Linked DNA regions of Homo sapiens: region 1 is linked to region 2. The links come from fine-mapping of genetic effects on gene expression. A gene starts in region 2. The other region holds a variant in brackets. All regions are shown on one strand. Distances are from middle to middle. Region 1 overlaps MPHOSPH9 (M-phase phosphoprotein 9). Region 2 holds the start of SBNO1 (strawberry notch homolog 1).

Region 1 (4,388 bases), 140 kb after region 2:
ATCAAGCAGTAAATAAATTAAAATGATCTTTTGGTGACTAGATTTTAAGTACATTTTAATGTCCTGAAATATATTGTGTGTTTATAAAACAAATCCGAAATAACTTACCTGAAGTTTGGAAAAGCAGTACTCCTGGAAAAACTCAGTGCTGTTTTACACACTGAGTAGGCTAAATAAGTCCTGAATATTTGCTGCTGATTTGCTTGGCACAACTTTTATGCAGAGATAGTGCAGAGATAAGCATCAGCTTATCGTACCAAATTAAGGGTGTCCAGTGAACAAGATTTGACTGTCATTTGGGGCAGTGGGGAAAGAATCCCCACTGCACAATGAAGGGCTGTTCTGAAAGTTGGGGGAAATAATCCTCTGGAATAGCTGAGATCAGAGAAGCTGGAAATTAATCTTATTGTTTAGCACAGACTTTTTCTATTTTCTGCCGATCCTTTGGAGTGTTCTCTCACTTCTGGAGAAGGTCTTCTTGTTGTGTTCTTAAAAAGAGTACAGTGCGGTCTTTTTACTGGCCGTTTCCTTTTGTGGAGCAACTTGTGATCAGATTTTGAACAAATGAGGTGCCATTAGAAGGATTAAATGTCAGTGGTTTTGTACTGCTCTGCTAAATCTTGAACTGCTGAATTATTCAACACTTTGATAGAATGAAGAAAACCATTTGAATTATTTATGTTTCAACAGAAGTAGTCCCCACCTTAGTACAAATGGGGTATCCTCTTTCTCAGGGAAGACCAGACCATCTGTAATTCAAGGTACAGTTGAAGTCCTAACTTCTTTAATGCAAGAGCTACAAAACAGTGGAAAGACTGATTCGGAACTTTGGAAAAACTGTGAGGTATCTAATTTTGTTTTATTTTTGGAATTTTAAAATAATTATGTTAAAACATACCTCTACTAAACTCTAAATTATTAGAAATTTATGTCCTGAAGAGCATGACACTTTTAAGTTAATGCTAAAGTGGTCAAGTATATTAATTTGGGAATGATATTGAATGAATGGGAAAAAGGTGATCAAAAGTATTTTTTAACAATATATTACTGATTAGACATACTAATTTGTATATTAAATATGAACTAAAACATTGTCTTGGTTCAGAGACCTGAGAATCCCAAAATTATTAAAATTGTTACTAATTGTAATGTTGTCAGTAACTTATATGGAATTGTCATCATTTTGAAAAACCTAAATCCACTTTGAAATATTTTCAATGTTCTAATTATAAATTGAAGCTTCTATTTAGTACCTTACCATATTCAGCTGTGATACATTGCATTATATTGTTTTCAGATCAGTGGTTCTTTCTTTGGTTCATAGGTTAAATTGTGATATAAAAATGTAACAGTTAAAAGAATACTTACATGGCCGAGCACAGTGGCTCACGCCTGTAATCCCAGCACTTTAGGCGGCCAAGGTGGGAGGTTTGGTTGAGGCCAGGAGTTTGAGACTAGCCTGGGCAAGATAGCGAGACCCTGTCTCTACAAATATAAATACATAAATAAATTAGCTGGTCATGGTGGCACGGTGTCTGTAGTCCTAGCTACTTGGGAGGCTGATGTGGGAGGATCACTTCAACCCAGGAAGTCAGGGTTGCAGTGAGCTATGATCACAGCACTACACTCCAGCCTGGGTGACAGACTGAGACCCTGTCTCTCTCTATATATAAAAAAAGAGAACCTGTAATCCCAGCACTTGAGGCAGAGGTGGATAGCTTGTGCCCAGAGTTTGTGACCTGCTTGGGCAACATAGCAAGACCCCCTCAGTAAAAAAAAAAAAAAGTATATATAAATTTTATTTCATAGGATAATGCTCAAGATAGACTTTCCTAAGGCTGGATTTGATAGTTTTTTATAGAAATGTTTAAACCATTATTAATTCTTAGAAAGCACTAGATCTTGTTTTAAACGTTAATTGTACTTTTAGAAGCATAATTTGTGTTATTTTTCAGAATGTAGAGTAAGCGAAATGAAAGATTACCTGGTTTAAGAATTCGATAGCAGCAACTGCTAAGTGTAATTATTTATATCCATTATCCATAATTATTGAAATTATAAAAAAGTATTAT[TATA/A]TGCTTAAAAAATTGAGTTTTCAGTTTTTATACTTTATGCTTGTTTGCATATAATAATCAGTATGCACTAACGTGAAAGACCTTTAAAAATGCCCATGCAAATGCAATTAAAAATGGAATGTTTTATTAAGTATATTAAATGCTTCCCTTAATGTATCTACTCATAAGCTTTTTGTTTATTTGTTTGTTTGTTTTTGAGACAGAGTCTTGCTCTGTTGCCCAGGCTGGAGTGCTATGGTGCGATCTCGGCTCACTGCCACCACTGCCTCCCAGGTTCAAGTGATTCTCCTGCCTCAGTCTCCCGAGTAGCTGAGATCACAGGCGAGCGCCACCATGCCCAGCTAATTCTTGTATTTTTAGTAGAGAAGGGGTTTAGCCATGTTGGCCAGGCTGGTCTCGAACTCCTGACCTCAGGTAATCTGCCTGATTTGGCTTCCCAAAGTGCTGGGATTACAGGCATGAGCCACCGTGGCTAGCCCTTATTAGCTTTTGATAACTGAATTAACATGCTTTAGGACAAAGGAGGCATTGCCACAATGTATTTTAACTTCTGGAAAATTTGTGTTTAACTAGAAATTGTTACTTTTGATAATTAGAAATCAACCTTTTTTTTTTGACATTAGCATCTTAAGTCAGAATCAGAATATATTCCCTGCCCCACCTCTCCTCTCCCCTCCCTCCCACCCCCTCCCTCCCTCCCTTCCTTTCTTCCTTCCTTCCTTTTCTTTGTTTCTTTTTCTCCTCTTTCATTCTCTCTCTTTTCTTTCTTTCTTTTTTTTTTTTTTTTTGAAATAGGGTCTCATTCTGTCATCCAGGCTGGAGTACAGTGGCACAATCTCTGTTCACTGTACCTTCAACCTCTTGGGCTCAAGCCATCCTCCCACCTCAGCTTCCCAAGTAGCTGGGACTACAGGTGCACACCACCATGCCCAGCTAATTTTTGCATTTTTTGTTGAGACAAGGTTTTGCTATGTTGCCCAGGTTAGTCTTGAACTCATGAACTCAAATGATCCACCCACCTTGGCCTCCCAAACTGCTAGAATTACAGGCATGAGCCGCTGTGCCCAGCCTCTGAGCTCTGTTTTTATAACAGCTTTCAAAATAACATCAATTTATATTATCCTGAAATGAAATTCATAGGTAATATAACCTACCTTTACCCGCTTTAAAAAATCAATATACTATCCTAAATGTGACATAAAGGAGAAATAAAAAATTTACAGTAAAATAACATGTATTTGGATATATCCATGTCAGGCACATGTTCATTAGAAGACATAATGAAGTAGTCATGTTTACCTGTATGTACTCACTGTGAATTCAGCAGCTGAACACAGATCAATATAGCTATGGTGTGTTGATGATCCAGGTATTGTGTACAGCACCTCCACTGGTGACATGCTTTTCTGAAAGGGTGACCAACTTCTCATGAGATTTTGAAACTTAAGTTTGTTTTGATGTTATGAATACTGTGCGAAATATTTATTGTTTTATAACATAAAATGGACACAGGACAATTCTTCATCATGGGGGACTGCCCTATGATCCGCATGCCTGGACCCTGCCCACTAAATGCCAGTGATGTCCCCCCAGCTTTGTCATGACCGTGACCTCACAGATTTCCAACATGGAGTTCCTTCCCCATTGAGATCACTGCATCATATTTAAATTTAAAACTTAGGCCTGTAATCCCAGCACTTTGGGAGACCGAGGCGGGTGGATCACTTGAGGTCAGGAGTTCGAGAACAGCCTGGCCAACATGGTGAAACCATGTCTCTACTAAAAAATATGAAAATTCGGCTGGGTGCAGTGGCTCACGCCTGTAATCCCAGCACTTTGGGAGGCCGAGGCAGGCGGATCATGAGGTCAGGAGATTGAGACCATCCTGGCTAACATGGTGAAACCCCGTCTCCACTAAAAATACAAAAAAATTAGCCGGGTGTGGTGGCGGGTGCCTGTAGTCCCAGCTACTTGGGGGCTGAGGCAGGAGAATGGCGTGAACCCAGGAGGCAGAGCTTGCAGTGAGCCGAGATCATGCCACTGCACTCCAGTCTGGGCGACAGAGCAAGACTCTGTCTCCAAAAAAAAAAAAAAAAAAAAATGTGTATATATATATATATAAATTAGCAATTAGCCGAACATGGTGACACATGTCTGTAATCTCAGCTACTTGGGAGGCTGAGGCATGAGAATTGCTTGAACACGGGAGGCGGAGGTTGCAGTGAGCCCAGATCATGCCACTGCACTCCAGCCTGGGTGAGAGAACGAGAGACTCCGTCTCAAAAAAAAAAATAAATAAATAAATAAAACTTA
Region 2 (4,388 bases):
GGGCAACAAGAGTGAAACTATGTCTCAAAAAAAAAAAAAATTAAAAAAATAGTTTCGCTTTGTTACCCAGGCTGGTGCAGTGGCACGATTATAGCTCACTGTAGCCTCAAACTTCTGGGCAATCAAGTGATTCTCCTACCTTAGCCTCCTGAGTAGCTGGGACTATATATCACACTTGGCTAATTAAAAGTTTTTTGTTGGGCCGGGCGCGGTGGCTCACGCCTGTAATCCCAGCACTTTGGGAGGCCGAGATGGGTGGATCACGAGGTCAGGAGATCGAGACCACGGTGAAACCCCGTCTCCACTAAAAATACAAAAAAAAAAAAAAAAAAGTCCTAGCTACTCGGGAGGCTGAGGCAGGACAATGGCGTGAACCCAGGAGGCAGAGGTTGCAGTGAGCCGAGATCGCGCTACTGCACTCCAGCCTGGGCGACCGACAGAGCGAGACCCCGTCTCAAAAAGAAAAATGTTTTTTTGTCGAGATGAGGTTGCACTTTGTTACCCAAGTCTGGTCTCAAACTCCTGGCTGAGATCCCCGTTTCAGCCTCCCAAAGTGTTGGGATTACAGGCGTGAGCCACCACACCTGGCCTGTGCCTAAGGTTTTTTTTGTTTTTTGTTTTTGAGTCGGATTCTCGCTCTGTCGCCCAGGCTGCAGTGCAATGGCACGATCTCGGCTCACTGCAACCTCCGTCTCTTGAGTTCAAGCGATTCTCCTGCCTCAGCCTCCAGAGTAGCTGGGATTACAGGTGCCCGCCACCAAGCCCCAGCTAAATTTTGTATTTTTAGCAGAGATGGGGTTTCACCATGTTGGCCAGGCTGGTCTCGAACTCCTGACCTCAGGTGGTCCGCCCACCTCGGCCTCCCGAAGTGCTGGGATTACAGGCGTGAGCCACTGCGCCCGGCCTAAAATATTTTTTATTTTTGTCTTTATAGGTTTTTTTTCTATGTGTGTGAGAGGATTAAATGAAATAATGTAATTAGTAAAGCGATTAGTTAGCACTTTAAAAATATTTATAAATGTATACATAGATATATAATACATATCTATGTGTACAAACACTGAAGTTTCCTATTCTTTCTGTGCCTACTTTTTCCTTTCTTTCCCCGAATACTTTGTCTCTGGAAGAGTTCACACTGTAACCTCCAACTGTTCCAGCTACTTGGTTTGCTTTCAGCACTAGGCTTGTAGGATGCGCAGCCAGTAGGGGGCAAGAATCACCCAGGCGTGCTTATTACCCAAGCAACGGAGTCAAACAGCACTTTCAGAATGACTTTACAAAAGGGTTACCAACAAGGTAATATGTTTATTGTGTTAGGTCGCTTAATAATAACGAAAAGATGAAAACAAGGAAGTGAGAAGCGGTAGGGACAGCCCTACTCTTCAGTATTCATTAAGTGGGAGCCCCGGTGTGTCGGGCTTGCGTATGAGCGTGAAGACAGACGTGGGATGGCTGAGCTCACACGCCTTAGGCTCTGATTCTAGCCGTGGTCGCGCCGAGGGCTCCGGGTTACTTGCGGTTTCACTGCCAATAAAGTGCTTTGAGCGAGCCTAACAAGCAATGAATATGTAAACATTTTGTTTCTAGGACTAACTAGGTAATGAAGAGATCTTCCAAGTGACAGAAACGCTGCTAGGTAACTTCCTGGGCCGTAGCTCCCCACCCTAACAGGTTCTGAAAATAGCTCCAGGCCCTTCCTAACCGGAGTTTGAAAGCAGGCGCGGGGCGCATGCGCGCGGCCCTCCGGCCGACCTCCCGATAGCCCTGGCACGCGGACCTTCTTCCCGACAGGCCGCGGGGAAAAAAGGGCGGGGAAACGGAATTACCGCGAGCTCTCCGTGAGCGCCGGCGGAAACAGTAGTCACGTGACTCTCCTAGGTGGCCTTCGCCTTCCCCCTCCCCCTTCGCGGAAACCCGGCCCCCTCACCCCTCGCCCACCCCAGAGCCGCGGTAATGGACCGTTTGGGTTCCGGAATTCTCTTGGATCCAACAACTGGTACCGGGCCGAGGATAGCCGGCGGAGTCCGTTTTTGGCGGCGAAGACTGGGGGGTGGTCAAGATGGGGGGGAAATCATCTTCCTTCACCTAGGAGGGAGGCGGGGCGGAGAGGGGCGCAGAGAGGCGGGTGGGGGAGGAGGGAGGAAGTCACGTGAGGGCGCTGCGTGCGCGCGGCGCCTCATCCGTTGCCCCTCCCCCGCCCCTCCCGGCGGGGCGGGGGGGCTGGGGGAGGGGCGTCAAGATGGCGGCGGGGAGGTAGGCAGAGCAGGACGCCGCTGCTGCCGCCGCCACCGCCGCCTCCGCTCCAGTCGCCTCTGGTCCTTCAAACTCACACCTCCCGGGAGGAGCTGTGCTGGCGCCGGGTCCCGCGGGGAAAGTAAGTCCTTCCCTTGGCCCTTTTCTCCTTCCACACTCCCCCTCCCGGACAGCCTCCCACTCCCACCCTCGGGGGGCCGTGCGGGGCCAGGCTGGGGGGACAGCCACCTCGCCCCGGCTTGGGGCCTCCCTCGCCGCTTGCCGCTCCTCGCGGCCGCGCGCTCCGGGGCCCTCGGGGGCATGTTCCCGACGGCGGCTCCGTTGTACTCGCTTCCTCTGTTCGTCAGCGCCGGGCCCCGCTGTCGCCGCTCGTGGGGCTTTCGGGCTCCGGGAGCCCCGCTGTCCCGGGCCGGAGGCACCCCTCTTGGACCGCGGGGCAGGGTCTGTGCACGCCGGCTCCGCTGGGTTCGCCCCTTTGGCTTCCGCCTCACAACCCGGGGGCTGCGGGTCCGGGACCCGCGGGGAAAGTAAGGACCGGATCCTTCCCAAGTCCTCTTTCGTGCCCCAGCATTGCTCCCGGCTCTGGGCGAGGGAGGGAGGCAGGCGACGCGGTCGTCCTTCCTAAATCTGAACCCCACAGCGCGGTCTCGTACATGCCCCGCTCTTGGGGCGGTGGGGAAGCCGCGGGGGACACGTGCAGGCTCCCTTCACGCCTCTCCAGGCGACTCGCTTAGTTCTGCCTCGGCGGGCGAGCTCACCTCCCAGACCCTAAGAATTACCCATGGAGGGGAACGGCAGTTGGGGATTTGCTTACTTTGAGAGCGTTTGGCATAACGAGCATCCAGAGTTCCCCAAAGCAGTGGATACCGGTGGTTTCCCAGAAGTGGTTTGGGGTCGGTTTAACCGCTGAGGAGATTTGGATGTTCCTAAACCCTTCTGATTGTTTCTTTCCTGACCCTGGCATCCAGCTCCTCCCCTTCCCACCCCTGCTTTGTGCTTCTGTTTGGTTAATGTTTGCGGACCACTAACTTGATCCTCGCACAGAGAAGCTCTTTTTATGTGCGTGCTCGGTTTACTGTGGGAGGCTTTTGTTTTGGGGAGTCGCTGGTTGAGAAACGTGGGAAAAGAACGGGCCAGAAAATGAGAGACAAATAAAGCAACGTTTTTATCCATTGAATTGCGCAGCCAATTGTAAGTGCACCCGGAAGTTTGTACTGAACACGTGTTGAGGGAAGGTTATAAACTGGTCCCCTTTGACCTTTGAAAGTTGGCTATTATCATTTTATGTTGAGTTAAATGTTTCATATATTCTAGACAGCCAGAATTAGGGATGGAATATGGTTTCTAAAGAGTCATCCAGAAGGGTGCAGAGAACTGTCATCCGGAGTGCCCTAGCAGGAATTGACTTAACACTTTCAGATAATTCTGCGAGCTGACAGTACAGAGGGATTCTATTTTCCACCATATTTTCTAGCAATCAGAATTGATTTTCATAAGCGTAGGGAAAGCTATCATCGTTGCACAGAAGATAGCAGAATTTCCTACTGGTGACTTGAGTGGGACATTAATTTTGCAAGCAAGGGAACATTTTCTCTCATCTTTTAAAGAAGTTGTTTCCAAAATTTTTCCGATGGGAGACGACTTTACTTTTTTTCTCTGGCTTCTGCTTTTTATCTTCCATTCCAACTTATTCCATATAATTGCGTTTGGAATATTTATGCTATTTTTAAATTTTTGAGACAGGGTCCCACTCTGTTGCTCAAGCTGAAGTGCAGTGACGTGGTCATAGCTCACTGCAGCTTGAACTCCTGGGCTCAAGCGATCGTCCCACTTCAGCCTCCGGAGTAGCTGGGACTACAGATGTGCACCACTACAGCAGCTAATTTTTTTTTTTTTAATTTTTTTGTTGAGAGGCGGGGGTCTCACCATGTTGGGAGGCAGCTACTGGCCTCAAGCAATCTTCTGGCCTCCGCTTCCCGAAGTGGTGGGATTACAGGCATGAGCCATTGTGCCTGGCCCCTTCAGAATCTTTTTTTTTTTTTTTTTTTTTTTTGAGGCGGAGTCTTGCTGTGTTGCCCAGGCTGGAGTGTAGTGGTATGAACTCGGCTCACTGCAACCTCTGCCTTCAGGGTTCA

What was found. PIP is the estimated chance that this variant, and not a neighbour inherited with it, causes the effect. A credible set is the group of variants that fine-mapping cannot tell apart.
Region 1: its variant is the best candidate, but not a certain one, in a credible set for the expression of SBNO1 in fibroblasts (GTEx, PIP 0.55).

Annotation. Positions count from the first base shown.
Region 1 is chr12:123,223,919-123,228,306 of GRCh38, reverse strand. It overlaps MPHOSPH9 (M-phase phosphoprotein 9), which reads left to right. Exons shown (of 24, transcript NM_022782.4): 3 at 691-844. Among named protein-coding and RNA genes, the nearest start is that of MPHOSPH9, 7.0 kb to the left of the region's middle. The variant TATA/A (reference allele first, on the strand shown) is at 2,073.
Region 2 is chr12:123,362,687-123,367,074 of GRCh38, reverse strand. It overlaps SBNO1 (strawberry notch homolog 1), which reads left to right and starts at 2,228. Exons shown (of 32, transcript NM_001167856.3): 1 at 2,228-2,374. MIR8072 (microRNA 8072) reads left to right here and starts at 2,232; the gene lies at 2,232-2,311. SBNO1-AS1 (SBNO1 antisense RNA 1) reads right to left here and starts at 2,127. Exons shown (of 2, transcript NR_157806.1): 1 at 1,960-2,127; 2 at 1,271-1,550. RefSeq lists enhancers at 1,468-1,677, 3,138-3,187, 2,844-3,562 and silencers at 1,848-1,947, 2,078-2,317, 2,428-2,507, 2,548-2,657.